7 separate regions of the Homo sapiens genome follow, and all the other regions are reported to be linked to region 7. The links are microRNA targets in miRTarBase. Many come from high-throughput screens and were not tested one by one. Region 7 holds a microRNA gene; each other region holds the end of a gene's coding sequence.
The links. The annotated mature microRNA hsa-miR-4478 reads GAGGCUGAGCUGAGGAG and lies in region 7 at 1,331-1,347, shown strand. An mRNA with a match to its seed (bases 2 to 7 or 8) in the 3' UTR can be bound and repressed. Matches are read on the target gene's strand: a 7mer-m8 pairs with bases 2 to 8, a 7mer-A1 pairs with bases 2 to 7 and ends in A, and an 8mer does both.

Region 1: miRTarBase lists NEK9 as a target of hsa-miR-4478. The part of its 3' UTR that is shown has no 7-base or 8-base seed match.
Region 2: the mRNA of VPS26C is a reported target of hsa-miR-4478. Seed matches in the 3' UTR shown: 7mer-m8 at 2,899-2,905 and 7mer-m8 at 2,445-2,451.
Region 3: the mRNA of SCNM1 is a reported target of hsa-miR-4478. Seed matches in the 3' UTR shown: 7mer-m8 at 3,353-3,359 and 7mer-m8 at 3,104-3,110.
Region 4: the mRNA of CGNL1 is a reported target of hsa-miR-4478. Seed matches in the 3' UTR shown: 7mer-m8 at 1,391-1,397.
Region 5: the mRNA of ZMYM1 is a reported target of hsa-miR-4478. The part of its 3' UTR that is shown has no 7-base or 8-base seed match.
Region 6: the mRNA of GPR75 is a reported target of hsa-miR-4478. The part of its 3' UTR that is shown has no 7-base or 8-base seed match.

The regions. Positions count from the first base shown.
Region 1 is chr14:75,080,894-75,084,965 of GRCh38, reverse strand. It overlaps NEK9 (NIMA related kinase 9), which reads left to right. Exons shown (of 22, transcript NM_033116.6): 22 at 280-4,072. The coding sequence ends at 402. Among named protein-coding and RNA genes, the nearest start is that of ZC2HC1C, 13 kb to the right of the region's middle.
Region 2 is chr21:37,221,982-37,226,055 of GRCh38, forward strand. VPS26C (VPS26 endosomal protein sorting factor C) reads right to left here. Exons shown (of 8, transcript NM_006052.2): 8 at 1,441-3,645. The coding sequence ends at 3,563. Among named protein-coding and RNA genes, the nearest start is that of DSCR9, 16 kb to the left of the region's middle.
Region 3 is chr1:151,168,719-151,172,718 of GRCh38, reverse strand. It overlaps SCNM1 (sodium channel modifier 1), which reads right to left. Exons shown (of 7, transcript NM_024041.4): 7 at 2,423-3,733. The coding sequence ends at 3,634. TNFAIP8L2-SCNM1 (TNFAIP8L2-SCNM1 readthrough) reads right to left here. Exons shown (of 7, transcript NR_144937.2): 7 at 2,423-3,733. TMOD4 (tropomodulin 4) reads left to right here. Exons shown (of 10, transcript NM_013353.3): 5 at 362-451; 6 at 956-1,086; 7 at 1,179-1,286; 8 at 1,656-1,799; 9 at 2,056-2,200; 10 at 2,616-2,732. The coding sequence ends at 2,638. Among named protein-coding and RNA genes, the nearest start is that of SCNM1, 4.6 kb to the right of the region's middle.
Region 4 is chr15:57,546,861-57,550,924 of GRCh38, forward strand. It overlaps CGNL1 (cingulin like 1), which reads left to right. Exons shown (of 19, transcript NM_032866.5): 19 at 495-3,857. The coding sequence ends at 630. Among named protein-coding and RNA genes, the nearest start is that of GCOM1, 43 kb to the right of the region's middle.
Region 5 is chr1:35,115,028-35,119,105 of GRCh38, reverse strand. It overlaps ZMYM1 (zinc finger MYM-type containing 1), which reads right to left. Exons shown (of 10, transcript NM_024772.5): 10 at 3,247-4,078. The coding sequence ends at 3,847. Among named protein-coding and RNA genes, the nearest start is that of ZMYM1, 38 kb to the right of the region's middle.
Region 6 is chr2:53,849,802-53,853,879 of GRCh38, reverse strand. GPR75 (G protein-coupled receptor 75) reads left to right here. Exons shown (of 2, transcript NM_006794.4): 2 at 1-968. The coding sequence ends at 746. The region is part of intron 1 of GPR75-ASB3 (GPR75-ASB3 readthrough); the gene reads left to right. Among named protein-coding and RNA genes, the nearest start is that of MIR3682, 2.6 kb to the right of the region's middle.
Region 7 is chr9:122,117,416-122,121,493 of GRCh38, reverse strand. MIR4478 (microRNA 4478) reads left to right here and starts at 1,327; the gene lies at 1,327-1,412.

The DNA.
Region 1 (4,072 bases), not on the chromosome of region 7:
GCCCAGGACTTTTTCCATTTTAAAACTAAGAGTTCTGCATCCCAGGAAACCCCGCAGTCCTGGACAAACCTGGATAGTTGGTCACCCTACCTGCAGTAAATATAAAGGTATGGACTGTATCTAAAATAGTGCCATGAGCGTCTCACAAGATCGTGGCTACAAATCCTTAGCCACGCCTTAGCCAATGCCTTAGAAGTTGGCATTGAAAATATAGTACTGAACTACTTCTGTGACTAGGTGGCACTGTTGCTAATGTGGAACCGTGTTTTATCCGGACAGGTGGGGATGCATTCCAAAGGAACTCAGACAGCAAAGGAAGAGATGGAAATGGATCCAAAGCCTGACTTAGATTCAGATTCCTGGTGCCTCCTGGGAACAGACTCCTGTAGACCCAGCCTCTAGTCTCCTGAGCCTGTAGAGCCCCCAGGAGACTGGGACCCAAAGAACTTCACAGCACACTTACCGAATGCAGAGAGCAGCTTTCCTGGCTTTGTTCACTTGCAGAAAAGGAGCGCAAGGCAGAGGCTCTGAAGCACTTTCCTTGTACATTTGGAGAGTGGCATTGCCTTTTAGATAGGATCTAGGAGTGATTTTATTGTTTTGGAGAATGGAAGGGCCCCCATGGCCCTGGCTTTGTCATCAGTGACTGCCATAGCAACAGCAGCTCTGTACCTCATCTGTTGATCCCACCTTTGAAGAGGAGACACAGTGCTCACCTTAATTGCGCTGGTAGCAGCTTATATCCCATGTATCATTTTCACCATTGATTGGAAGCTGCCTTGGGAATTCAGTACCAGGCATTACCCCTCTGGGTGGGAGAGGGAGAAGTGTAAAGTTGGAGTGGGCTGGAATCAGGTGTGGCCCGCCCAGTGTCCTCTGCAGAGTGGTGAAGTAGTCTGGCCCTCTTGGGAGCCCTGAGTCCAGGAAAATATGTCTGATGGAGTCAATCTAGGGCTTGTTTCGAAAAAGTTCAGTTACTCTGTGCAGCTAAATGCTTTAGGAGGAAAGGTAGGCTTAGGTTGCTTTTCCTCTGAGGGTTGATTGAAATTTCTTCAGTGAGGAATAGAGAAAGGGCAGGACCCTCCTCATCACACAGCTGGTGTTTCAGGCTGTGACCAATGCAGGGTGGGATTTCCTAACTGTGGATGAGGGGATGAGGTGTCTCTGAGGGATGAGGTGTCTCAGAGAATTGAGTCCATGGGGCAGTCAGAATAGCCTTAAGAGAAAATCATGAAGGAGAAGAGGTCCTCCTTTAGCTGCCTCTACTTGGTATCTTAGAGAGGGCTTAGAGGGCTCTCAGTCTTCTGCCCATGAAAAGACTTCTTTGAGCCTCTGCCTTCATGGCTCTTAGGGTTCTGATCTTGATATCAGCAGCCCCAACCACTTTCTTTCTGAATGTCTAGTCAGTATTTTTCCCCTTTTGGTGTTTTATGAAGCCATGTGGTAACGAATGAATCTGTATCATTTTTCCTACCTGAGTGGCCCAAAGCCAGCACCAAACCCTGGGAGTCCCTGAAGCCTAACAGAACAGGTAGAACTTGCAAAAGGAATTTGGCTGAGAGCTCACTTCTAATCCTGTACTCACTGTGTCTTTGTAGATAGAAACAAGCTAGCTTTACCAAAGAGAAATAGTGTCATAGAAGAACAAAACTTCATATAGAAAGTTCTAGGCAAGTATTTGATGGTTTCCTTAAGGATGTGAGCTTTGTATTTCCACCTAGCCTTGTAAAATGTTCCTGTGGTATTTTGTGTCACACATCCTACCTTTGATGAGTCTCACATCCCACCTTCCTATAAACAGCTAAATTAATTTTGTTTCATCTTCCCCAGACCAAAATGTTTGATAATCTTATCAACATTGTGGGAGGTCTTGTGCAATGGAAATTTTGCCATTTCTCCAAAACTGGTGGCATAAAGGCTGATGCTTGGGGAGAACCCCATTGCTCGGGACAGGCAACTCTGTTCAATGGGATCTTCTTTGGTTTGATGTTCCCATTGTTTTCTCAGTTCTGGGAAGCCTAGTACATTAGTACTAATGTAATCACTGAAACCTTTTCTTGAAATAAGGGAAGCAGCCAAACTTTGATTAAAGTTGCAAGTTCTGGGGACTTGCGGGGGTTGTCATAAACTGTAACAGTGGGTTTTGGTTCAGCATGTAAATGCAACTTTGATTTTCTTGAGGACCGATTGACCTGTCATGTCCCTGTATCCTCATGCTCATCATCTCAGCAGGCCTGAGAGGCTGGGTCAGTTTGGGTGTTCATCATGAGGATTGCTTCTGCCATGGAGCTGATGGACATGGGCAGGTTGCTGAGAAGGTGGGGTGAAAGTGAGTGCCGGGGGTGGGTGAGTGCCCTGGTCTTGTTCATAGGGGAGCCTTTCCCTAGCAGTGGAACGCTGTGGTCATTTTCTCTAGCATATTCCCTTGGGAAGTCTAGATTTGCTATTAATCTGGCTGAGAATCTAAGTTCTGTGCCTTAGAGACAGTTTGCACTTTCCCATATTGTGCCTGGGACAGCCATATGATTTTTTTTCCCACCAAACAAGTATGCAAACAGAAACCAGTTCAAAGGGGGATGGAGTAAAAGATGAGGCAGTAGAAATGCCTTTGAATGGTTTTCTGTAGCTAATTCTCTTTAAATTTTGTCCTGCTTTTTTTCTTTATGCAGTGCTAGGTGTTTTAAGTTTTCTAGTAGTATTGCTTTTGAGTTACAGTATAACCTGAGTTACTCCTCTGCTCTAACATTGTTGCAGAAGAACTAGTTTATTGTTAGCCAGGTTGCTTGAAAGGTTGAGAGTGGAGTGGTTTGGCATTTCTGTTTTAAATAAACATTTAAGCTCTTAATCAGTACTGTGCTTCAGTAAGCCTGTGCATGGACCTTAGTCTCTGGGGATAAAACATCCAGATTCTAAGCCTCCGTGAATCTTTGATTCTGTGAGTCTTTATATAAATAATGTTCTTGGAACAGAAACAATGCAAGGGACATCTGCACAGAAATATTCTTTGCTTCTCTCCAGTTTCTTATTCTTGCCAGCAGAATCATTGCTGCTGCTACAGCTTTTTTCCCAAAAATGTCTAAAAGTGCCGAAAGTGCAGAGGGAGGGAAAAAATGAGCCACTAAAAGAAGGATGATCCTTTCTTGTACCTACCTCCTCAGTCTCAGTGGGGGCCTTTCCAAGTGATAATGCCAGTTTATGGTTTGTAAAACTTTTCCTTCAAAGAGATTGAACTGAATTTGGTCTCCCTGGCATAGCACAGCCAAGTTACAACTTCTCTTGGCTGAGCATTTCACTGAAGTTTAAAGCAAAAGTACACTAAAAAATTTCATTTCACTTGCCATATGTTCACAAACATTCATAATAGAACAATTCAGGGGCAAGAATACATTTTAAATAAATTCATTCACATGAAATCCCTAAACCTCCAAAAAAGTATTCATGATGGTCAGGGCAGAGTGGGCTATAATCAGGACTATAAAACATGTTCCTAACTGCTGCAAAGCCAAAAATCATTTATTGTTTCAATGATTAACTGTGGAAATAAACACGCTGATCATTAAACCTCACAGAATGATGAACATTAGGGAGAAAAACTCCACTATGTCACATCTCTGTTACCACCTGTGTAGCTGTGGAGAGTGATAAATTGATAATGAAAGCAAACATTGGCCAGAAGGTGCTGTGCTGCATTACATACATTGCTGTTAAGAAATACTGTCTCGGGCCAGACGCAGTGGCTCACGCCTGTAATCCCAGCACTTTGGGAGGCCGAGGCGGGCGGATCACGAGGTCAGGAGATCGAGACCATCCTGGCTAACACAGTGAAATCCCGTCTCTACTAAAAATACAAAAAAATTAGCTGGGTGTTGTGGCAGGTGCCTGTAGTCCCAGCTACTCTGGAGGCTGAGGCAGGAGAATGGCGTGAACCCAGGAGGCGGAGTTTGCAGTGAGCTGAGATTGCGCCACGGTACTCCAGCCTGGGCGACAGAGTGAGACTCCATCTCAAAAATAAAAAAAAAAATACTGTCTTGGCAGGACAGGCGCGGTGGCTCACGCCTGTAATCCCAGCACT
Region 2 (4,074 bases), not on the chromosome of region 7:
GTCCATGTGTTCTCATTGTTCAGTTCCCACCTATGAGTGAGAATATGCGGTGTTTGGTTTTTTGTTCTTGCGATAGTTTACTGAGAATGATGATTTCCAATTTCATCCATGTCCCTACAAAGGACATGAACTCATCGTTTTTTATGGCTGCATAGTATTCCATGGTGTATATGTGCCACATTTTCTTAATCCAATCTGTCATTGTTGGACATTTGGGTTGGTTCCAAGTCTTTGCTATTGTGAATAATGCCGCAATAAACATACACGTGCGTGTGTCTTTATAGCAGCATGATTTATAGTCCTTTGGGTATATACCCAGTAATGGGATGGCTGGGTCAAATGGTATTTCTAGTTCTAGATCCCTGAGGAATCGCCACACTGTCTTCCACAATGGTTGAACTAGTGTACAGTCCTACCAACAGTGTAAAAGTGTTCTTATTTCTCCACATCCTCTCCAGCACCTGTTGTTTCCTGACTTTTGAATGATCGCCATTCTAACTGGTGTGAGATGGTATCTCATTGTGGTTTTGATTTGCATTTCTCTGATGGCCAGTGATGATGAGCATTTTTTCATGTGTTTTTTGGCTGCATAAATGTCTTCTTTTGAGAAGTGTCTGTTCATATCCTTCACCCACTTGTTGATGGGGTTGTTTTTTTCTTGTAAATTTGTTTGAGTTCATTGTAGATTCTGGATATTAGCCCTTTGTCAGATGAGTAGGTTGCGAAAATTTTCTCCCATTTTGTAGGTTGCCTGTTCACTCTGATGGTAGTTTCTTTTGCTGTGCAGAAGCTCTTTAGTTTAATTAGATCCCATTTGTCAATTTTGCCTTTGGTTGCCATTGGTTTTGGTGTTTTAGACATGAAGTCCTTGCCCATGCCTATGTCCTGAATGGTAATGCCTAGGTTATGGTTTTAGGTCTAACGTTTAAGTCTTTAATCCATCTTGAACTGATTTTTGTATAAGGTGCAAGGAAGGGATCCAGTTTCAGCTTTCTACATATGGTTGGCCAGTTTTCCCAGCACCATTTATTAAATAGGGAATCCTTTCCCCATTGCTTGTTTTTCTCAGGTTTGTCAAAGATCAGATAGTTGTAGATATGCGGCGTTATTATTTCTGAGGCACAGCCTCTTTCTTTCGTCTCCCTTTCCTTTCCTCATCTCTTGCTCTAATTGGAGAATTTGACAACTCTGAACCTCTGACTGTGGATAACCCCAACTCCAGCAAGCCTGGGCAAGAGTGGGACAGTTGCAGCCCAAGGTAGCCAAACATCTGAGTTTTGCCTAGTAACAGATCATGGAGAGGTCAGACCAAGAAGTGGAAGGAAGTGGCCGGCCTGAGGCCTTTGTTTGGGCCACTCAGGGTTGAATGAAATGATAAAGGTAGCCACGTTGTCTGGATGCGCTTCAGGTAATAATTATTCTCTAAGGAAAGCAGTCATATTTATATCCATAAAATCAGTTTATTAAATTACATAGCAATATACATCCCAAACCTTTTCTCAAAATTGTCATTAGCTTTTTAAATTCGTTAAATATTTTCATCTCATTAAAAATGGTTTCTTCCTTTAAAATTTCCCAGAAAGTGTGGCCTCTGTTTTCTGCTACTCAGTTTAAACACATCATCAAGGATAGATAATTAATGTCAGGTGAGCATAAAAGGAGATTATAAACCAGAAATGTGTTTTCTGGGAACCAAGTTTCAAGTGACTCAGATAAGTTTTATTAATTTCATGGGTGAAGCCCCTGGATAAAGCAGTGCCTAAATCAGGCTTGTTTACCCTTGGCATTATGTCACCAAACACTGTTTCAGGATACTGGAAGTACATACAGCTTGGGAGGTCTTTGGCCTGAGCCTGTTTTGGCCAAGCCCATCCAGAATGAAAAGTACAAAAGAAGGCTAGTGTGTGTGCAAAGCAGCATGGCTTATTTTGAGGTCCTATTAGTTGTGGGCCAACAAAACAGTGGCAGGATTTGAAGGAAGAAATGTATTGCAATAGTCCATATCCTTCGAACCACAAAGGGAGACTGAGGAAATGCTGGCTTTAGGCCAAAAAACCCTGGCTCAAAACAGCTTCCTCCAGTGGCTCAGAGGCAGACCAAATTCATCAAGTCAAGGACCTTTTCCTGCTACCACCTTGCGGAGAGGGGCCTTCACCAGCCCACCCTGCACATGGGTTTCTGCTGTTCAGAACCTACCCAGTAACAACAGGAGCAAACATACATGTTTTCCCCTCATGTAACTTTGCATTTAAATATATTCTGGGAAACTGCTGGGCACAGTGGCTCACACCTGTAATCTCAGCACTTTGGGAGGCCAAGACAGGAGGATCACTTGAGTCTAGGAGTTCAAGACCAGCCTGGGCAACATAGGGAGACCCTGTCTACAAAAAATTTGAAAATTAGCTGAGTGTGGTGGCACTCACCTGTAGTCTCAGCTACTCAGGAGGCTGAGGGGAGGGATCGCTTGAGCCAGGGAGGTTGAGGCTGCCGTGAGCTGTGATCCTGCCAGTGCACTCAGCCTGCGTGACACAGTTTGGAAAACTGTCTCTCTCTATGTATGTATCTGTTCAGGGAAATGGCAGCGTGAGATTTTATGGCAGTTCTTGAGACTTCAGAAACACTTCGGCACCAGCCAAATCCCCCCAAGAGAGCAAGGAACACTTTTCCAGTTGCTTAAAAAATTTAAAGTTATAATGAAAAATGTTGTAAAAAGAACTACAGAGGCTGGGTGTGGTGGCTCACACCTGTAATCCCAGCACTTTGGGAGGCCAAGGCGGGTGGGTCACGAGGTCAGGAGTTCAAGACCAGCCTGGCCAAGATGGTGAAGCCCCGTCTCTACTAAAAATACAAACATTAGCCGGGCACGGTGGCAGTCACCTGTAATCCCAACTACTCGGGAGGCTGAGGCAGGAGAGTCGCTTGAACCTGGGAGGTGGAGGTTGCAGTGAGCTGAGATCACTCCAGCCTGGGTGACAGACTGAGACTCCGTCTCAGAAACAAAACCAAAAAACTACAGAATAGAGTAGGGGTGGAGGGAAGTCATGCATTTCCAGTGGCTAGCACTTTGCGCTCTGCCTTGGCGAGTATCTGCAAACTTCCTGACCATCAAGTGCGCTTGCAGCCATCCTGGATGTCAACTGGCCACAGACCCTTTGCTATGGGGAGTCCCTGGCTACATCCATTAGCAAGTCAGAGGTTTCCTTTTGTCCCCATGATGCCACTCTCCAGCAAGCTCAAACTGCTGTCACAATTGTTTTACTGTACCTAAAAAGGAACAGATAAGGCAAGAGCCACAGTCAATGTTTTCTGTGAAATGGTCTTGGCAAATAGCATTAAGAAATCTTGTTGAATTTCAAAGAAAAGGTCTGATTAGAGGTGCCTGTTGGAAGCAGAAGCCTCAAGAAATGAGGAAGGAAAGTTAATTTGAGGGTCTGTTTCATTTCTGATACAGAATAATCACAAAAACAAGTATATGCCGCTGGCTGTAGCTCCCCTTAGGATTTGGATAACCAGCTGGATTTCCAGATGGCCACTCCCGTTCTCTATGCTTCCCTCCTCCGGGCTATATCCTGCAGAGCTTCAGCGGGAAGTTCTCCGTGATGAGGTGGTCAGGGTGAAGCAGCACCACGATGTTAACCTCAAATTCTGAGAAGAGAAGAGAGGGTGGGTTTGTGCTCACTGTTACCAAGCAGCGAAACCACACGCCGCCACCACTGCAGTCGCAGGAAGCTCTAACGGCGAAGGAGCACCCGGTGCGGGTGGGTTTCATTGCTGTCCCCTCAGCGCCACCCTGACCTTTCAGCCAAACTTTCAGTGGAGATGACTATGCTGATGTCTGACTACCTCTGTCAACTTTCTCTAAGTGAATTTTTGTCCTCTCATCTTGGAACATGAGTGATCAGGCTTCACCAACTACACTTTCCCTGTCCCTTTGCTTTCCTAAAAAGGATATTCTAGAACCCTTTCAATTCATTTGTATTCCTTTGCCTTATTTTTACATTTCCTACGGTTCTTAATGAAATAGCAGACTGTGAACCAGCGCATAGCTGTCTGGGCCCATGTCCCCAATCCCCA
Region 3 (4,000 bases), not on the chromosome of region 7:
GGAGGTGGCAGTGAGCCAAGATCGCACCACTGCACTCCAGCCTGGGGGACAGAGTGAGACTCCGTCTCGGGGGGAAAAAAAGTGGAACCATTCTGGCTGAAAGAGGAGAGTCTCTACAGACTCCTTTATCCTCTAGTGGCTCATAAGGGACCTTCCCTTAGCCCTTTCTCAATGTTTTAGAAACTACTGCCTTAAGAAGTTTATGGAAAGGACCCCTGGGGCTGAAAGAGGGTGGGAAACTTCTTTGGCAAAGTGTAAGTGGTCAGGCTTTACAAATGCAACAGATTCAGAAATAGGTAGGAGGGAGGCTTGGAACAGGTTCCTTCTCATTCCCTGTGACTCCTCTTCTTACCCTCTCCAGCAATTCTGGACATGTACACACTGATGAGTAACAAGCAATACTATGATGCCCTCTGCAGTGGAGAAATCTGCAACACTGAAGGCATTAGCAGTGAGTGTGTTTGGGGAGCATGGTCCCCAGGGCTCTGGGCAGGCAGTCCTAGTGTCTGGGAGAAGGTAGAAAAGGGTGAAATTGATGATTCTGGGAGAGGACATGCTGCATGAGTGATAAGAAAACCTGTGGAGTGCCAGGTGAGGTGGCTCATGCCTGTAATCCCAGCATTTAGGGAGGCCGAGGCAGGTGGATCACCTGAGGTCAGGAGTTCAAGACCAGCCTGGCCAACATAGTGAAACCTTGTCTCTACTAAAACTACAAAAATTAGCTGGTTGCATGCCTGTAATCCCAGATATTATACTTGGGAAGCAGAGGCACAAGAATTTCTTGAACCCGGGAGGTCAAGGCTGCTGTGAGTTGAGATTGTGCCACTGCATTCCAGCCTAGGTGGATAGAGCGAGACTCCATCTCAAAAAAAAAAAAAAAGAAAAGAAAAGAAAACCAATGGGGAGGAGATTATGGGGAACATGTTGGGGTTCCCTTCCTGCCCTCATTCACCAGGTGTGGTACAGCCTGACAAGTATAAGCCAGTGCCGGATGAACCCCCAAATCCCACAAACATTGAGGAGATACTAAAGAGGGTCCGAAGCAATGACAAGGAGCTGGAGGAGGTGAACTTGAATAATATACAGGTATTTGACTTGCATCCTCCAAACCATAACACCGGATAACCACTGACATCCGAGAGTCCCTTAGCCCACCATCTCCTATTCCCCTCCGATAGGACATCCCAATACCCATGCTAAGTGAGCTGTGTGAGGCAATGAAGGCAAATACCTATGTGCGGAGCTTCAGTCTGGTAGCCACGAGGAGTGGTGACCCCATTGCCAATGTAAGGCTAGTTGACATCCCCAGCCCTCTCCCCACATCTTACATGCACCTGTTGCATGGCTGTCATAAAGGGTTTTGCTAGGGAGTGCTATTCTCATCATGCCTTCTTAGGGCAGCCCTCATGGAGACTCCTACCTTCAGTGCTATGGCTCATAACTCTCTACTCTCTCTAACACCCCTAGTCCCACTGCACATTCATCTCCCTGCTTTCCCCTGCTATCCGCCCTGCTTTCTGTATCCCTCTAGCTCCATTTACAGCACCTGAAAGACTCTTCTCAAAGAGCTGTGTTTCCCTCTTGCTCCTGTTCTTTCTTTCCTCAGTCATCTGTGAAACTGTTCCCTAATCCTAACCCAAGTCCCTACTACCCAGGCAGTGGCTGACATGTTGCGTGAGAATCGTAGCCTCCAGAGCCTAAACATCGAATCCAACTTCATTAGCAGCACAGGACTCATGGCTGTGCTGAAGGCAGTTCGGGAAAATGCCACACTCACTGAGCTCCGTGTAGACAATCAGGTCAGCATTCCCTTCCCCTGATGTTAGCATTCAGTCTCATTGAGTCTCCTCCCTGAGCCAGCCAGTGGGGCAGCTATCTTACTTAATCTTGCTTGAATTCTCCTCTTCATTGTCTCTGTGAGGGAAGCCAAGTCAGCATCTCTCTTCACCCACTGTGGAGAAACAAGCTTCTTTGACCTCCCAAAGGGGTCTGTGATGTGGGATGGTAAACAGCCCAGAGAGGGTGACTGTCAGCTTTTGCCTCTCCCTCCCCCAGCGCCAGTGGCCTGGTGATGCAGTGGAGATGGAGATGGCCACCGTGCTAGAGCAGTGTCCCTCTATTGTCCGCTTTGGCTACCACTTTACACAGCAGGGGCCACGAGCTCGGGCAGCCCAGGCCATGACCCGAAACAATGAACTACGTGAGTAACTGCAGACATGATGTGTGGAGTGGTCAGGGAAGTGCAGAAATTGGTGGATCCTCCTGAAAGCAGACCTAATGACTAACAGCCCAGGGTGCTACCAAAGAGCTATTCATATGAGAATTTCAAATCCCAAGAGTGATCAGAAAGTAAACAGAAAACTCCCCCTGCCCCAAATATGGACCAGTAGAGAGGTAGAAAGGATGCCAGAGATAATCATACTTGTTTAGAGGTATCGTAATTTTATTTGTGGTGTGGTTTCTTGTTTTGTTTTGTTAATGTGGGATGGGCCTGTAAGGTGGCCTAAGACACTACCAATTTATGAGTTTGGCTAAGGGACTGGAAAGGAGAAGAGTGCCTTTGCAGAAAGCAGGAGCTGGAACAAACACTTATGTTTAATATTGCTCCTTTACAGGTCGCCAGCAAAAGAAGAGATAACACTGCATTTCCCTTTACCAACTAGCGCTGGGAGCACTGGACACTTAAATCCTCATCTGTCCTCCTTTCCTGTAAATAAAAGCCCTTCTATCCATTTTGCCTGCCTCCTTCCTTGGGCTTTGGGGTGAGAATCTTGGCGCTAACCCCCAAGGGTTACTGCCAGTTCACCAGGGGATTATTTATACTCTGGGGATCAGCAGGCAGGGAGGTTCAGGTTACTAGGAGGAGGTGGGGGTGTTCCCTCCCTTGGTGTTCCCCATAACCCTGCCAATGCCTTTTGACTCTTCTACTTTCACAGGGAACTTAGCCACAGCCCTGTTTCCAGATGTGGCCAGGTCCCCCTAGTGCCTACCTGCAGTCCTTATGTGATTTGAAGGGGGAAAGGACTTTGAGTGGTAGTGGAGAAGCAGGCAGACAACATGAAGGGCAAAGACCTCTTTTTGACAGTCTTATTAATAGGGCACCAGGCTGATGCAGCTGACGCTTGGCATGGCTTTGGTAGGAGGTGGGGGAGGGGTTAGAAGTATGGATAGCCGTGGCTGGGTGCGGTGGCTCATGCCTGTAATCCCAGCACTTTGGGAGGCCGAGGTGGGCGGATCACGAGGTCAGGAGATCGAGACCATCCTGGCTAACACAGTGAAACCCCGTCTCTACTAAAAATACAAAAAATTAGCTGGGCATGGTGGCGGGCGCCTGTAGTCCCAGCTACTCAGGAGGCTGAGGCAGGAGAAAGGCGTGAACCTGGGAGGCAGAGCTTGCAGTGAGCCGAGATCGTGCCACTGCACTCCAGCCTGGGCGATAGAGCGAGACTCTGCCTCAAAAAAAAAAAAAAAAAAAAAAGGAGTGTGGAGAGCTGTGTACCTTGCAGGCAAGGAGTAGTTGGAATGAGAATGAACAGATCTGAAATCCTGAGATCCAACAAGGAACCAGACTTAAGGAAAGTTAAGTTCTCAGCACCCATTGTAATTTATTTGTGAATGAATGGGAAAAGGGTATCAGTCCAAGGGGAGATCAGGTGGTTCCTCCTCATCAGAGTCAAACTCAACATTTTCATCTTTTACCCATCGACCTCGTCCATCTGGGATCCATCCAGAGCTGGAAACATCAGAGAAAATAGCATCGATCAGGAAAGAGGCTTATTAAGAAGTTAGTGGTGAGCTCACACCAGTAATCCCAGCACTCTGGGAGGCCGAGGCAGGTGGATCACTTGAGGTCAGGAGTTCGAGACCAGCCTGACCAACATAGTGAAACCCTGTCTCTACCAAAAAAAAAAAAAAAAAAAAAAAAAAAGTTAGCAGTGAGAAAAAATTGAGAGCCATGTAAGTTGGGTGGCTAAAACAAAACGAAACCAAAGATGGAAAA
Region 4 (4,064 bases), not on the chromosome of region 7:
CCCGGGTAGTTCTCATCAATGGACAGAAGGCTCCAGCCCATTGAGAGTCCTGTAAAACAGGGCCTATCAGGTCACTGGCCCCAAGGTTGGCATTAGGGTGCAGCATTTAAGAGGGCACCAAAAATCTCAATAATTAAGATAGATAACATTTTAATGCAATATTTAAAAGATAATGCATGCAATCCATGGTGAACAAGATACCAAAATTTTAAATTAAGACAAGATCAATAATAACAGCCTGGGGAAATCAACAATACTGATCCTATCCCAGCCTGGCCCACCCCACCAGCACAGGCTTTCCGTGCCGAAATGGGGGCGGTGGACTCCCTGTGGCTGAAGGGGCCATCAGGTGGAGACCTGTTACATTCATGTGTTTCTTTTCTGTGCCACTCAGTGGGGTGCAGGGACAGCAACCCAAAACCCTCCCTTTAAGTCCAAATTAGCTATGGGCCCCGGCCCAGGGCCAGGAAACATGCCCCTTGTCATTTCAGCAGACTGAAGAAGCTGCCGAGTAAAGTGCTGGATGACATGGATGACGACGATGACCTCAGCACGGATGGGGGAAGCCTCTATGAGGCGCCTGTGAGCTACACATTCTCCAAGGACAGCACCGTCGCCAGCCAGATCTGAGTGCTCTCCCGGGCTGTGGAAGTACCTGTCATTCCTGCAGGAGCTGCAGCCACCCAAAGTGGGAGGCAGGGAGGGGAGCATCTGTCTGCCACTGAGACCAATCACAGCCTCTTTGCACAGCATGCCAGCTCCTCAGTGTTACATTCCTCGCCAGGGTCTCTCAGTGGGTCTTCGACAGAGAGCTTTTGCAGTTTAAAATGTTGGGATGCCTGAGGACCAGGAGCCACCACCCACTGGGGTGTTGTGAGAGATACACTTTGGTAGGCTGAGGCCCCTGTTCCACAGCCACTATTTGCATTGCTGTCCCTGCCCCCTCATCACTCCCCCTGCCAAGACAAAGGGTCCAGAAGGCTAGGACTTACTTAATAGCACTGTGCAGGGAGGAAACCATGTATAGCTTGTACATATTTTAAACCAGACCTTCTCACGAACTGCTGCTGTTGGGTTTGGAATGTGATGGAGGCTTGGTAGGGTGGCTGGTTTGTAAAGTTCATGCATCTATATTGAGTATTCTTTTTTTTTTTTTTTGAGATGGAGTTTCATTCTTGTTGCCGAGGCTGGAGTGCAATGGCGCAACCTTGGCTCACTGCAACCTCTGCCTCCCTGGTTCAAGTGATTCTCCTGCCTCATCCTCCCAAGAAGCTGAGATTACAGATGACCACCACCACTCCTGGCTAATTTTTTGTATTTAGTAGAGACGGGGTTTCACCATGTTGGTCAGGCTGGTCTTGAACTCCTGACCTCAGGTGATCCACCTGCCTCAGCCTCCCAAAGTGCTGAGATTACAGGCATGAGCCACCACGCCCAGCCATTGAGTATTCTTTTTTAAAATATGAAGCTATTAGATTTTAAGTGTTGAGGAGCAGAGGTGAGAAGAGAGAGAGAGAGAGAAAGTCAAATAAAGTCAAAGACCAGTTTGGAAACCAAAGTTGGAAAAGAAGAATTGTAGTGGTCATGGACAGCTAAGACTGAGCATAGCAGTTCACATGGTCTGGGTAAACAAGTCACTGGCACAGGGGAAAGCCAGAAGGTTGCTTGTGTCTGTGACTGCAGCTATGGCCTTGTTTGCTTAGTTTATCTGGAATTCTGTTATAATTTCTGAACTGTTCTGAGACCTGTTCCCAGTCACTGATTGCAATTTCTTTTACACAGGTTGGGTAGGGAGAGTTGTAGGTAAGGCCTTAAACAAATGAGGCCGTTTCTGGAAGGATAGGGCTGTGTGGTCATGTCCCACAGCAAGCTTTTGGGATCGGGGGAATAAGAGGGTATGGGGGAAAGGTTCATAGACTTAGGTGTGAGAATGAGGTGGGAGGTGTCTGGTAAGGTCATGGGGGAAGGGAGATGAGAGAGGAGATAGGCAGATGTGGGTATGGGGCCCAGTGTGAGAAGGAAGACAGAGAAGTTCTTGAAAGCTGGGGGATGTGTGGGCAAGAGGTGGATTGAGCAGGATCTCAGGGTTATGTCGAGGAAGGGAAGAAAGAAACAGAAGTCAGGCAGAGGCGTGTCTGTGCAAACTGGAGGACTCCTTCCAACTTCCTGGAACAAAGCGACATCGCCAGCAGCAGGCTGGCAGGGAGTGGTTGAGGTCTGGGGGCCAGGCCACATGGCTGGAGAGGAATTTCAGGGAGCATAGCATCGGGAGGATGCTACATATCCAGGGACTCCCTCCTGGCCTTCCTGTGTCACTTCACAATGTGACAGTCCCCAGGCATGCCCACAGGCCAGGCCCAGTCACAGCTGGGCTTCCACAGGTCAGAATATGGGACAGGACATGGTCAGGGAGAGGACCCTGTGAGTTGGTGACATATATGTGGCAGAGATGGTAGTGTTCAGCTGCTTCAGCAGTGTCCCCAACCATCCCAATAGGGTGGGGGCCTGTGGGCCAGAGGACTCCATGACAGTAGCCATGGAGTCCCACCTGTGCCAGGTCAGAGCCCACCCGGCAGGTTTCAGAGTGGTCAGCCCAGTTTAAGGGTGGGAGTCTGGAGCCAGACAGCCAAGCCCCTTCCACATCTACAGGGTCACTGTCATCCTCACCACAGCCAGGGGTGATTCTCACCTCTGCCTGCTTATGTGGGGTGTGGCCGATTCCTCCCTTTAGTCATTCATTCATTTAGCACATATTTATTGGGCATCGGTGATGTGTCAGGCACAGTCCTTGGCACACAGAATACAGCAGTGAATTAAACAGGCAAAAATTCCTCCCCTCCTGGAGCTCAGTGTCAGGAAAGGGGGTGATAAATGACAATCAAATCGACATGGAGGTTGAGCACCTCTGTACTCAGCCCTCTGTCTGTCCTTCTGAGGACGCAACAAGCCTGGTTCCCTAGAGCTCACTTTGACCCTCAATATGTTCATAATTTCCCTGCTGCTTCTCCCATCGTTAGACATCTGCCAGTAAGCCTGCTGAGAGAAGCCTCAGCCCACTCATACCTAGAGACGCTGCTGGGGAAGGTCAGCACACCCAAGAACTTTGGGAGTGTGTGTCTGTTTTGGTTTGTGAGAAAGTAGCTGCCCCTCATTCTGGCCAGTTCTTTCCAGTAGCCATGGGGCTGGCTACAAGAAGCAAAACTGCCCATGCAAAGAGAACACAGGTCACTTTTCAAAACACTTGCATCATTACCCTAAAAATAGGCTGTTATGCGTTTTGACAATTGCGCTATCCTACACTCTGAGGGAGTTGGCAACGCATGCGGTATAGTGGAGTGGGAAGAGTTGAGACTGAAAGTTAAGAGAAGGGTTTTCAAGTCCCGGCTCATCTCACCCCAGTGACTTTGACAGTGTGCTCACTCTCAGAGCCATGGATTACCTGGAACAAAGTGCAGATTAGTGCCCACGGTCCTTTCCAGGTATAACATGCTATCGTTCTTTAATTTTATTATATATACATACTTTTCTTCTGTTTTTTGCTTTAAGAACTAACCCCGATCAAGAGTATTTTCTTTAGCTAGCTTAAAAAGAAAACATATATTTTATGTAAAAACACATACATGGCCAAATGCAATACTGAAGAGACAATCATCCTGTATCTTTTATGGTTTTTCCTGCTTCTGAGTGTCGTTCTACAATGCCCGTTGACTTATTCCATTGCGTCTCTGCTTTAGGGTATGGTTTGGTCGCTTTGGTTGTCATGAGAAAGAGACATTCTCCTTGCAGCTACCTCCATGTGAGTGAATTCCTGGATAAAGCAAGATTTCCTTTCAATAAACGCTGTCACCCAATGGGAATTTTGACTCTCCTGTGATTGTGACTTCTTTGTTTTCTCCAGAGCTTGGCTCTGTGTCCTTTAAGAAACTGCCAAGGTGAGTGGCTGGGAGCTACTGAGGGAAGTGGAACTTGGAGGCCTTCCAGCCCTGGGACCGGTTTCTGAAACAGAAGGGTGGGGACTGGTCAGTGGTGAATGCTGAGGGAATTAATGGCTCTGGATTCTTGTG
Region 5 (4,078 bases), not on the chromosome of region 7:
TTTTTAATGGACTTCTGATAATCTTTTATTTAGGAATATTTATAAGTGATAATGGTTGTCTAAGAGGTAGTAGAGCATGGTGATTGACAGCATGGGCTTTGGAGTCAGACTACCTGGGTACAAATCCAGTTTCACCCCTATTAGTTGTGTAATCCATAATGTGTTTTTTTAGTTTCTTCTGTAAAATAATAGGTTGTTATGAGAACTAAATGAAATAATATATGTAAAACACTGAGGGAAGTACTAGGTTACTTAATAGGCTAATAGGCATTCAACCAAGATAGCTGTTATACTTAATGTAAGTTTATTTTTTACATTATTGGCTGTATAATAGACTACAAGAATAGAAAACAAACACTTGAAAATGAAAACAAGAACACCAACCTCGATTTTTTTTTTGAGATGGAGTCTTGCTCTGTGGCCCAGGCTGGAGTGCTGTGGTGCGATCCCGGCTCACTGCAAGCTCCGCCTCCCGGGTTCACGCCATTCTCCTGCCTCAGCCTCCCCAGTAGCTGGGACTACAGGCACCCACCACTGCGCCTGGCTAATTTTTTTTAGTAGAGACGGGGTTTCACCATGGTCTCGATCTCCTGACCTCGTGATCCGCCCACCTCGGCCTCCCAAAGTGCTGGGATTACAGGCGTGAGCCACCATGCCTGGCCCAACTTCTTGATTTTATGACAAGATAGAAACTACAACTAAAAACAGCTAGAAAATGATGAAAATGAAAAAACACATGGTTGACCAAGCTGACTTTAGAGGAAAGTTCATAGCCTTAAGCACTTCCATTAAAAGAATGAAAATATATGCAACACACATTCAATACTAGAGTTAACTTCTATTTTCTTTTTTTTTTTTTTTTTTGAGACGGAGTTTCACTCTTGTCGCCCAGGCTGGAGTGCAATGGCACGATCTTGGCTCACTGCAACCTCTGCCTCCTGGGTTCAAGTGATTCTCCTGCCTTAGCCTCCTGAGTAGCTGGAATTACAGGCACCCACCACCACACCTGGCTCATTTTTTTTGTATTTTTAGTAGAGATGGGGTTTCACCATGTTGGCCAGGCTGGTCTTGAATTCTTGACCTTGTGATCCGCCTGCCTTAGCCTCCCAAAGTGTTGGGATTATAGGCGTGAGCTACCGTCCCCAGCCTATTTTCTCTCTTTTTTGAAACGGAGTTTCTCTCTTGTTGCCCAGACTAGAGTGCAATTGCACGATCTCAGCTCACTGCAACCACAGCCTTTGGGGTTCAAGCTATTCTCCCGTCTCAGCCTCCCGAGTAGCTGGTATTACAGGCATGTGCCACCACGCCCGGCTAATTTTATAGTTTTAGTAGAGACGGGGTTTCTCCATGTTAGTCAGGCTGGTCTTGAACTCCCGACCTCAAGTGATCTGCCCGCCTCGGCCTCCCAAAGTACTGTGATTACAAGTGTGAGCCACTGCGCCAGGCCTGTTTTCTCTTTTTTAAGGTGGAAATCAATAAATTAGGGCCGGGCATGGTGGCTTATGCCTGTAATCCCAGCACTTTGGGAGGCCAAGGTGGGTGGATCACCTGAGGTCAGGAGTTCGAGACCAGCCTGGCCAACATGGTGAAACCCCATCTCTACTAAAAATACAAAAAAATGAGCCAGGCGTGGTGGTGGGCACCTGTAATCCCATATACTTGGGAAGCTGAGGCAGGAGAATCACTTGAACCCGCGAGGTGGAGGTTGCAGTGAGCCAATATCACGCCACCGTACACTCCAGCCTGGGCAACAGAGCGAGACTCCGTCTTAAAAAATGAAAGAAAGAAAGTAAAACAGGTATATAGAAGATACTGAGAATATTTTCTACAACTCTAGGCAAATGCATTTGAAAGAAAGCCTCAATGAAATAGATGTTCTCCTAGAAAAAGTACAAGTTATCAAAATTGATGAGAGGGTAAGGGAGAAACAGCTGGAGAAAAGTGCCAGAGAAATAGTCTTTAAAAAAAAAAAAAAGGCCGGGCGCGGTGGCTCACGCCTGTAATCCCAGCACTTTGGGAGGCCGAGGCGGGCGGATCACGAGGTCAGGAGATCGAGACCACGGTGAAACCCCGTCTCTACTAAAAATACAAAAAATTAGCCGGGCACAGTGGCGGGCGCCTGTAGTCCCAGCTACTCGGGAGGCTGAGGCAGGAGAATGGCGTGAACCCGGAAGGCGGAGCTTGCAGTGAGCGGAGATCGCGCCACAGCACTCCCGCCTGGGCGACAGAGCGAGACTCCGTCTCAAAAAAAAAAAAAAAAAAAAAAAAAATTCCAGGCCTAGATATATATACCACTTAATTCTTTCAAATCTTTGAATATCACATTTTCTTTGTTATTTAAACTTTTCTGGCTGGGCGTGGTGGCTTATGCCATAATCCCAGCACTTTGGGAGGCCCAGGTGGGCGTATTACCTGACGTCAGGAGTTCAAGACCAGCCTGGCTAACATGGTGAAACCCCATCTCTACTAAAAATACAAAAATTAGCCAGGCGTGGTGGCGTGCGCCTGTCATCCCAGCTACTTGGGAGGCTGAGGCAGGACAATCACTTGAACCTGGGAGGCGGAGGTTGCAGTGAGCCGAGATCATACCATTGCACTCCAGTCTGGGCAACAAGAGCAAAACTCCATCTCAAAACAAAAACAAAACTTTTTTGAAGTATAAAGAAATAGTCTTTTCTTTGCAGGTTACTTAAATATAGTTATATTTTCATAACATGGCTTAATAATTTATTGTGCCATCCAGCTGAGATGTATAAATCAAAACCACAGCAGTGATTTTAACGTTTAAACAGGACAGTCTACAAAAAAGGAAATACAAATGGCTCAAACAAATAAACAGATACCTAACTTCATTCTTGTTTGTTTTAAAGAGATAAGGTCTCACTCTGTTGCCTAGACTCTGGAGCATAGTGGTGCAATCATGGCTCACTGCAGCCTCAAATTTCTGGGCTTAAGCAATCCTCCTGCCTCAGCCTCCCAAGTAGCTGGGACTTCGGGTGTGCAGTACCACACTTCACTAATTTAAAAAAAAAAAAATTGTAGTGATGAGGTCTTACTATGTTGCCAACCTCATCTTGAACTCGTGGCCTCAAGCGATCTTCCTTCCTGTGTAGGCCCTCAAAGGGCTGAGATTATAGGTGTGAACCACCACGCCCAGTCCCCAACCTTATTCTTAAGTGAATATACAAAATTCTACTGAGATTAAAACGCCATTTTTAAAGTAAGAGATTAGGAAAGATCAAAACATTTGATAACACTTACAAAGATTTAATAGGCACTCTCATGCATTGTGGGTGGGACTGTAAACTGGCACAATCCTTATAGATGGCAACTTGCCAATATCTATCAAAAGTAAAAATGCACATATCTTAACCTAGTAATTCTAACTTTAGATTTCCAGCTTACAGTAAACTCACTCATGTGCAATGTGACCTATATAAAAGGTTATAAAATGAATCATTATTTATAATAGCAAAAGGTTAGGAAAAAAATGTCAGCAGGGACTGCTCAAATATATTATGGTACATTCATACAATAACATCTGCAATTATAGACCAAGAATCAAGAAACTCTTCATGTAACGACATGGGACAATCTCAAAAATATGTTACACAGAGAAGACAAGCTGAAGAACAGTATACACCGTACAATACCACTTAGGAAAAATACCTCTAGAGGGATATTTAAGGAAAAGATAACACTTTTTGGGAAGAGAAAATGAGTTCTAAAGGAGGGAAGGAGACTTCACTGTTTATCGTTCTGTGTCTTTTGAATTTTGAACAATTTTGAAATGAAAACATCCCAATGGAAATACAAGTCTTTTAGGTAAGTTCAAATGAGCATGTATTATATTTCTTTCATCTGACTGATAAACTTTTCCACAATTTCATTGAGTCTTTCAGGCTCCATTAGTTTATTTACCAACTCCTGCTCAACAGCCATTAGGGCTGGGCCAGTAAGCTTCTCTTGTCCCATGGTATTACATAAATATGTCTTAAGACGAGGCAGGGTAGAAAATGAGTTCTCAGTACTTGCTGAAGTAATTGGCCAAGACAAAGCAATATATAATAGCTTTGAG
Region 6 (4,078 bases), not on the chromosome of region 7:
ACCAACTGGTCACCCCTGCAGCAAGCCGACTCCAGCTCGTATCAGCCATCAACCTCTCCACTGCCAAGGATTCCAAAGCCGTGGTCACCTGTGTGATCATTGTGCTGTCAGTCCTGGTGTGCTGTCTTCCACTGGGGATTTCCTTGGTACAGGTGGTTCTCTCCAGCAATGGGAGCTTCATTCTTTACCAGTTTGAATTGTTTGGATTTACTCTTATATTTTTCAAGTCAGGATTAAACCCTTTTATATATTCTCGGAACAGTGCAGGGCTGAGAAGGAAAGTGCTCTGGTGCCTCCAATACATAGGCCTGGGTTTTTTCTGCTGCAAACAAAAGACTCGACTTCGAGCCATGGGAAAAGGGAACCTCGAAGTCAACAGAAACAAATCCTCCCATCATGAAACAAACTCTGCCTACATGTTATCTCCAAAGCCACAGAAGAAATTTGTGGACCAGGCTTGTGGCCCAAGTCATTCAAAAGAAAGTATGGTGAGTCCCAAGATCTCTGCTGGACATCAACACTGTGGTCAGAGCAGCTCGACCCCCATCAACACTCGGATTGAACCTTACTACAGCATCTATAACAGCAGCCCTTCCCAGGAGGAGAGCAGCCCATGTAACTTACAGCCAGTAAACTCTTTTGGATTTGCCAATTCATATATTGCCATGCATTATCACACCACTAATGACTTAGTGCAGGAATATGACAGCACTTCAGCCAAGCAGATTCCAGTCCCCTCCGTTTAAAGTCATGGAGGCTATAGGATCTTATGTAAACAGTTTTTGTTTCTGATAGTAATGGACTTTATTCTAACTTGAGATCAGTGGCGGATCAAAACCTACAAGATTCAACTGAAAAGTTGGCAGTTATGGTTTTCTTTCATCTGATGTGTCAGTATCTGTTGATTTGCTTTGTAGTTTGTTGACATCTTAAGATTTGATGTGAAAGTTTTAGATTTTTTACCCTGCTCTTTGCCTCAGTCTTTTGTACCGAGCCTTTAAATAGATGCCAGGAATGAAGCTACTGTGTTAAAGTAGAAAGTCAACCGATTATCATGATTTGAGTCAGTGTTATGTGACTTCAAAATAAGGTATTGACTGGATTTTTTTTAAAGAATGTGAAAATATGATTTTTGCTGAGGTGTTATTTTTATTAATTGAATTGTAAATTTTGATTTTTTGAAGTGTTGAAATCGGGAACACTACACCTTGTTGGTAGCAGGTTGATTTGAATAAATAATATATTGTTAGCTGGGTGCAGTGGCATGCACCTGTAGTCCTAGCTACTTGGGAGGCTGAGGCAGGAGGATCACTTGAGCCCGGGATTATGAGTCCAGCCTGGGCAACACAGCAAGACCCTGTCTCTAAAGGAAATGTATATATTCTTTTTTTTTTTTTTTTTTTTTTTTTTTTTTTGAGACGGAGTTTCACTCTTGTTGCCCAGGCTGGAGTGCAATGGCATGACCTCGGCTCACCGCAACCTCCACCTCCCGGGTTCAAGTGATTCTCCTGTCTCAGCCTCCCAAGTAGCTGGGATTACAGGCGCATGCCACCATGCCCGGCTAATTTTTGTATTTTTATTAGAGACAGGGTTTCTCTGTGTTGGTCAGGCTGGTCTTCAACTCCTGACCTTAGGTGATCCGCCTGCCTCGGCCTCCCAAAGTGCTGGGATTACAGGCATGAGCCACTGTGCTTAGCCAGAAATATATATATTCTTAAGGCAGAAAAGGTGATAACTCTGTCTTTACCAAAAACACTCACACAGGTATTAGGTACTTTTCTTTCATAGGACAGTCAACTAAGAATATAGTATTATGATTATTGCCATTTCTTATTATAGACATGTTTTATGTCAGTTGAGTAGGTTTACAATTCTTTTGAAAAGAAATATATTTGGGCCGGGCATGGTGGCTCACACCTGTAATCCCAGCACTTTGGGAGGCTGAGGCGGGTGGATCACCTGAGGGTCAGGAGTTCGAGACCAGCCTGGCCAACATGATGAAACCCCGTCTCTACTAAAAACACAAAAATTAGCAAGGCATGGTGGCAAGCACCTGTAATCCCAGCTACTCGGGAGGTTGAGGCAAGAGAATCGCTTGAACCTGGGAGACAGGTTGCAGTGAGCTGAGATCGTGCCATTGCACTCCAGCCTGGGTGACAAGAGCGAGATGTCATCTCAAAAAAATGAAAAAAAGAGAAAGAAAGAAAGAAAAGAAATATATTTTTGCTTGTTAAAAGTGAATTATTTATTTATTTATTTTTTTCCTGAGAGGGAGTCTTGCTCTGTTGCCCAGGCTGGAGTGCAGTGGCATGATCTCTGCTCACTGCAACCTGCGCCTCCCGGGCTCAAGTGATTCTCCTGCCTCAGCCTCCTGAGTAGCTGGGATTACAGGCGTGTGCCACCATGCCCAGCTCATTTTTGTATTTTTTAGTAGAGACAGGTCTTGAACTTGTCTTGAACTCCTGACCTCAGGTGATCTGCCTGCCTCGGCCTCCCGAAGTGCTGGGATTACAGGCATGAGCCACCCCAACTGGCCCAAAAGTGAATTGTTTCTGAATGATCTTATTCAAGAAGCCTAGTGAAGAGGACTGCATCTATGGTAGAGGTGCACTGTTCCCAGGAGAGAAGGCACTGCGGTAATCATCTCGGTGTTCTGTGGAAAACAGTGTGGACTCCTGTCATGCATTGGGCAATATTTATTATTGCTTAACAAGGTTTACAGATAAGACTGGGAATGTTTTGATTTATGTTTTCCTTCTGTGTGAGAAGAGTTTACTAACCACCTGACAGTATTCAAGTAACTATTTAGAAATGACTTCTTTTTTGTCTTTATTTATTATTATGGTAGAAAAATTCTCAAGATAATCTATTTTCAAACTAATCATTTTATTTCTCTCCCATTAATCTTAAAGTGGAAATGGGCAGAAAGAAAAAATAGATTTAAGTATTTCTATACCTGAAACTAATTTTACTATATGCTCTGAGATTCCTAGCATAACAACTGTGAACTCATATTTTATTGTAAAAATATTTTCAGTATACAGTTAGTATTTGAACTCACTAGGTTTTTAAATGTTAGACACACAAGATGAGCATCAATATACAACACCTATCTTTATAAATTGTTATATTCAAGAGTTATTATTGCAGATTGGAAGGTACTTTGTTCCTTTGCGTAAAAGTCTTTTTTTTTTTTTGTAGAAACAGAGTCTTACTCTGTCACCCAGGCTAAAGTGCAGTGGCATGATCTCAGATCGCTGCAACCTCCGCTTCCCGGGTTCAAGCGATTGTCTTGCCTCAGCCTCCAGAGTAGCTGGGATTACAGGTGCCCGCCACCACTCCTGGCTAATTTTTGTATTTTTGGTAGAGACAGGGTTTCACCATGATAGCCAGGCTGGTCTTGAATTCCTGGCCTCAAGTAATCCACCCACCTCGGCCTCCCAAAGTGCTAGGATTACAGGCATGAGAAACCACATCCAGCTGAAAGGCATTTAATTTATAGTTTCCTCCCTCAGCTCTCCCCAAATACAGGGGTCATGAGAGGTATAGAGAAGACAGAATAGATATTCAATTAGAACTCTGCTCAACCTTATCTTATAACTGTTACCTTTCAGTATTGATCAGTTATTTCTATTTTTGAGATTTAAATAGGCATAGATTTTCTTTTGTTTTCTTTTTCTTCTAAATTTTTTTCTTGCCACACCCAGGGGCAGCCTCGAATTATTTTGTTTTTAAGTTCACCTTTTAGACTGATTTGCCTACCTACTCCCTCCTTCTTTCCCTTTCTCCCTCCCTCCTTCCCTTTTTCCCTTTTCTTTTTTTTAAGATGGAGTCTCATGCTTGTTGCCCAGGATGGAGTGCGGTGGCACAATCTCGGCTCACTGCAACCTCCGCCTCCCAGGTTCAAGCGATTCTCCTGTGTCAGCCTCCCGAGTAGCTGGGACTACAGGCACGCACCACCACTCCCAGCTAATTTTTGTATTTTTAATAGAGACAAGGTTTCACCAAGTTAGCCAGGCTGGTCTCAAACTTCTGACCTTGTGATCCACCCACCTCGGCCTACCTAAGTACTGGGATT
Region 7 (4,078 bases):
AAGGGTGGTCTGGCCTCCACCTGCTCAGCTCACTTGCCCTCTAGCCACTCTCACTTGAGCCTCAGCCTCCTGTATCTGCTGCTGCTGCTGGAGCCCAAGGGGCTGGGGCCATGGCTGGGTGCCCCAAAGACAGGAGAGAAGGAGGTGCTGGGGCTTTGCGCCCTGGAGGGGACAGCTAGAGACTCATCAGGCAGGAAGTATCTCCTCTTCTTGATTCTGATCCTTCACCCACCTATGTCAGCCTCACACCTGTACCTGTACACCTGTGGGGCAGCCTTCCCCACCTGTGGTTTTCCCCACTTCTGGAGCCCTAGAAGAATATGTAGAGCAGGCTTGGGGTGTGGCCCCATGGAGCACCCCCAAACTGCCTCTGGTCCCCAGGCTCCGGCTTGTGCTGTCCCTTCCCGCTGTCTGGATTTTGGCCTGTCTGTGGGACCTTGAGGAGCCTGGAGCCTGGAGCTGCCAGCTCGTCTGGGCCCTCCAGGCTCCAGGATCTCTGGAGGCCATGGGTGGGGCTGGTGCTGGCCTTGTTGGTGTTGCTCCTGCTGGAGTAGTGGTGCCCTCTGGCATCTGTGCCTTCCACGGCAGGTCACTGGTGCCATTTGCCATGTGCAGTGGGTGCTGGAGTCTAAGCTCGTGGAAAACTTCCAAGGCCTGGGCTATGGTCCTCATGGCCGTGCGGCCTGCCTTGACACACACAGAAGGGACACATGCACTAGTGTGCGTTCAGGGGACACGTGAACACACCCCTCATATTCAGACAGGTGTAAACAGCTCAGCCACACAAGTGCTGAGCTCCAGCAGACTCACGCACGCAGCCACACATATAGACAAGGTACAGGTGTAGCCAGTGTGTGAACATTGATAAGTCTGTCAAGGCAGATATGTGCACAGTCCAGAACACAAGACGGGTAGAAAGGCAGACCTACAAATGTGCACAGATCCCTGCCAACAAACATGCATATCCATACATGCACATATGCATACACAAGCTGTCATGGGCACACTTACAGGGGAACATGCCTTACTCAGAGCACAGAGCATTTCTCCAGCCCTCCCTGCATCCACTGCAAATGGGGACACATGTCCTATCCCTCAGCAGGCAGGGAAGGGCTGGGGGAGGGAACTTCACCTTTTCTTAGACCCATGGCAATGGAAAGTGGGCACCATCTTGGGTGATGTAGCCAAATGTCTCCTGTTCTGGGAGTCTCGGCACACATAGAAGATTCTGGAGAGGAGGGGGAGGTGCAAGGCATGATCCACTTCAAGCAGCCACCAAGCCCAGTGGGAGCTGGGTCTCTGGGCTTAGCAAGACAAGAGCCCAGGGGCCGAGGCTGAGCTGAGGAGCCTCCAAACCTGTAGACAGGGTCATGCAGTACTAGGGGCGAGCCTCATCCCCTGCAGCCCTGGCCTCTGCAGGGACAAGGGAGAGGAGAGGGTACGTCTGCAGGAGGGATTGTGGATTCAGCCTCCCATGTAGGATATGAAGCGACTCAGGCTGGGAGCAATCAGAGATCCCTGGGTTTGTCATGGCGCTGGGGTCTCCTTAGGACATCAGAGCCAGCTGTTACCTGCAGGGAAACCATCCAGATATATTTAGATACACACATACTTAGCATTGCATTACAATTGCTGACAGTATTCAGCACAGTACCATGCTGTACAGGTTTATAGTGTAGGAGCAATAGGCTATGCCATGTGGCCTAGTTGTGCAGTAGGCTACACCATCTAGGTTCATGTAAGTTTGCCCACCAAAATTGCCCGGTGACACATTTCTCAGAATGTATCCCCATCTTTTTTTTTTTTTTTTTTTTGAGATGGAGTCTCACTCTGTCGTCCAGGCTGGAGTGCAGTGGCACGATCTCGGCTCACTGCAACCTCCGCCTCCCGGGTTCAAACAATTCTTCTGCCTCAGCTTCCTGAGCAGCTGGGATTACAATCACGTGCCACCACACCCAGCTAATTTTTGTATTTTTAGTAGAGATGGGGTTTCGCTATGTTGGCCAGGCTCATCTCGAACTACTGACCTCAGGTGATCCGCCCACCTCGGCCTTCCAAAGTGCTGGGATTACAGGCATGAGCCACTGTGCCCGGTCGTATCCCCATCATTAAGTAACGCATGACTGTGTTCATAAGGTTGTGCAACCGGTTCCACTATGGCGCTCCAGAACATTTTTGTGACCCCACAAGAAACCCTGTGGCCATGAGATGTCACTCCCCATTCCGTCAGCCTCTGCAACCACTAATTCACTGTTCGTCTCCATGGATTTTCGTATTCTGGGCATTTGGTAGGAATGGAATTAGACATTATGTGGCCTTCCGTGTCTGGCTTCTTTCACTTAGCATAATGTTTTCAGGGCCCTGTGCCTCTGGTTTATAAGTGAGGACACTGGCCCAGACAGAGGGAGTGACTGTCCAAAGTCACATAGCAGCCAGGAGTCAGGCCCCTACACAGTGTTGGCTTTTTTAGGACCTCAGCCTTGGTCCCTGGGGTTGTGGGCTGTGGACAATGGAAGAGGTCACACTTCATCTAAAGGGGCAGCTATTACTCAGCTCTGCCTGGGACAGAATCCAGGGGCAGCACTGCCTAATACTAAACACTGTAAATAATGATACAAACGGCCAGGCACGGTGGCTCAAGCCTGTAGTTCCAGCTACTTGGGAGGCTGAGGCAGGAGGATCACTTGAGCTCAGGAGGTCAAGGCTGCAGTGAGCCATGATTGTGCCACTGCACTCCAGTCTGGGTGACAGAGAAAGACCCTGTCTCAAAAAAAAAAAAAAAGTTACAAATAACACCAGCTAACATTTTGCATGCTTCTTTTGTGCCTGGTGCTGTTCTAAAGAAGTGCTGTATAGGCACTTTCTTATTTAATCTCCATGACAATCTTGGTGAAAGTGCTGTTATTATCCCCGTTATGCAGACGAAGGAAGCAGAGCACAGAGAGGTTAAGTAACTCAGCCAAGGACACACAGCAAGCTAGTGGCAGAGTTAGGATTGGAACCCAGGTAGTCTGACTCCAGAGCCCCTGCTCTTACCCACCTATACAGATGCATTCCTTCTTCCAGATTTGTAAAGGAAGGCAGTAATACAGATTTTAATGTGAAACCTCATAAGTTTAAATGTTTCCAAGTGTCGACAACTTATGACAATTGTTTTTTGACACCGTACAGGCTGCAGGGCCTAAGCCTGGAAAGTTTCGTTTAATACAAAGGGAGAGGGCCCTCACCTTTGGTTTCTTCCTCAGCATCACTGCCATTCTGTCCAATACCACTTGGTCATCTTCTCCCTGACATTTCTTGCAGAGGCAGAGAGAGCCTGACATTGGGCACCCAGGTCCCGCTGAGGGTCGTGCTATAGCAGACAGCCCCATGGCCTGGTGCTGGCCTTGTGCCTGGCAGTGTGACTCTGGGCCAGTCCCTTCCCCTCCCTCAGTCATTCTTTTCTCCTCTGCAACCTGGGCGGGGAAATTTCTCATGGGATTAAATGTGATAACTGGCACAGACTAGTCATTCAATAGCCATGGTTTTTTTTTTTTTTTTTTTTGAGACAGGGGTCTCACTATGTTGCCCAGGCTGGTCTCGAACTCCTGGCCTCAAGTGGTCCTCCACCCTTGGCCTCCCAAAGCTCTGGGATTACAGGCATCAGCCACTGTGCCTGACTGCCATAACCATTAGCTGACCCAGAAACAACGGGAGATACAACCTGTTGTATCTGCATAAAGGGCCAACATTTGGGTTGCAGAGGTTTGTTGAGACTAATAATACCATTTATTGAGCACTGAGATAATTCCAGATACAGTGCACATTACATGCATTGCCTCATTCAGTCCTGAACTTTTTAAGCCCTGGAGGCCAGCCATTAAGGTTATGGGCCTAAGGTTTGAGCTAGGCGGCTGATATGGTTTGGGTGTGTCCCCACCAAATCTCATCTTGAATTGTAGTTCCCATAATCCCCACATGTTGTGGGAGGGGCCCGGTGGGAGGTAATTTAATCACGGGGGTGGTTACCCTCATGCTGTTCTCATGATAGTGAGTGAGTTCTCACGAGATCTGATGGGAGGGACTTTCCCACCTTGTG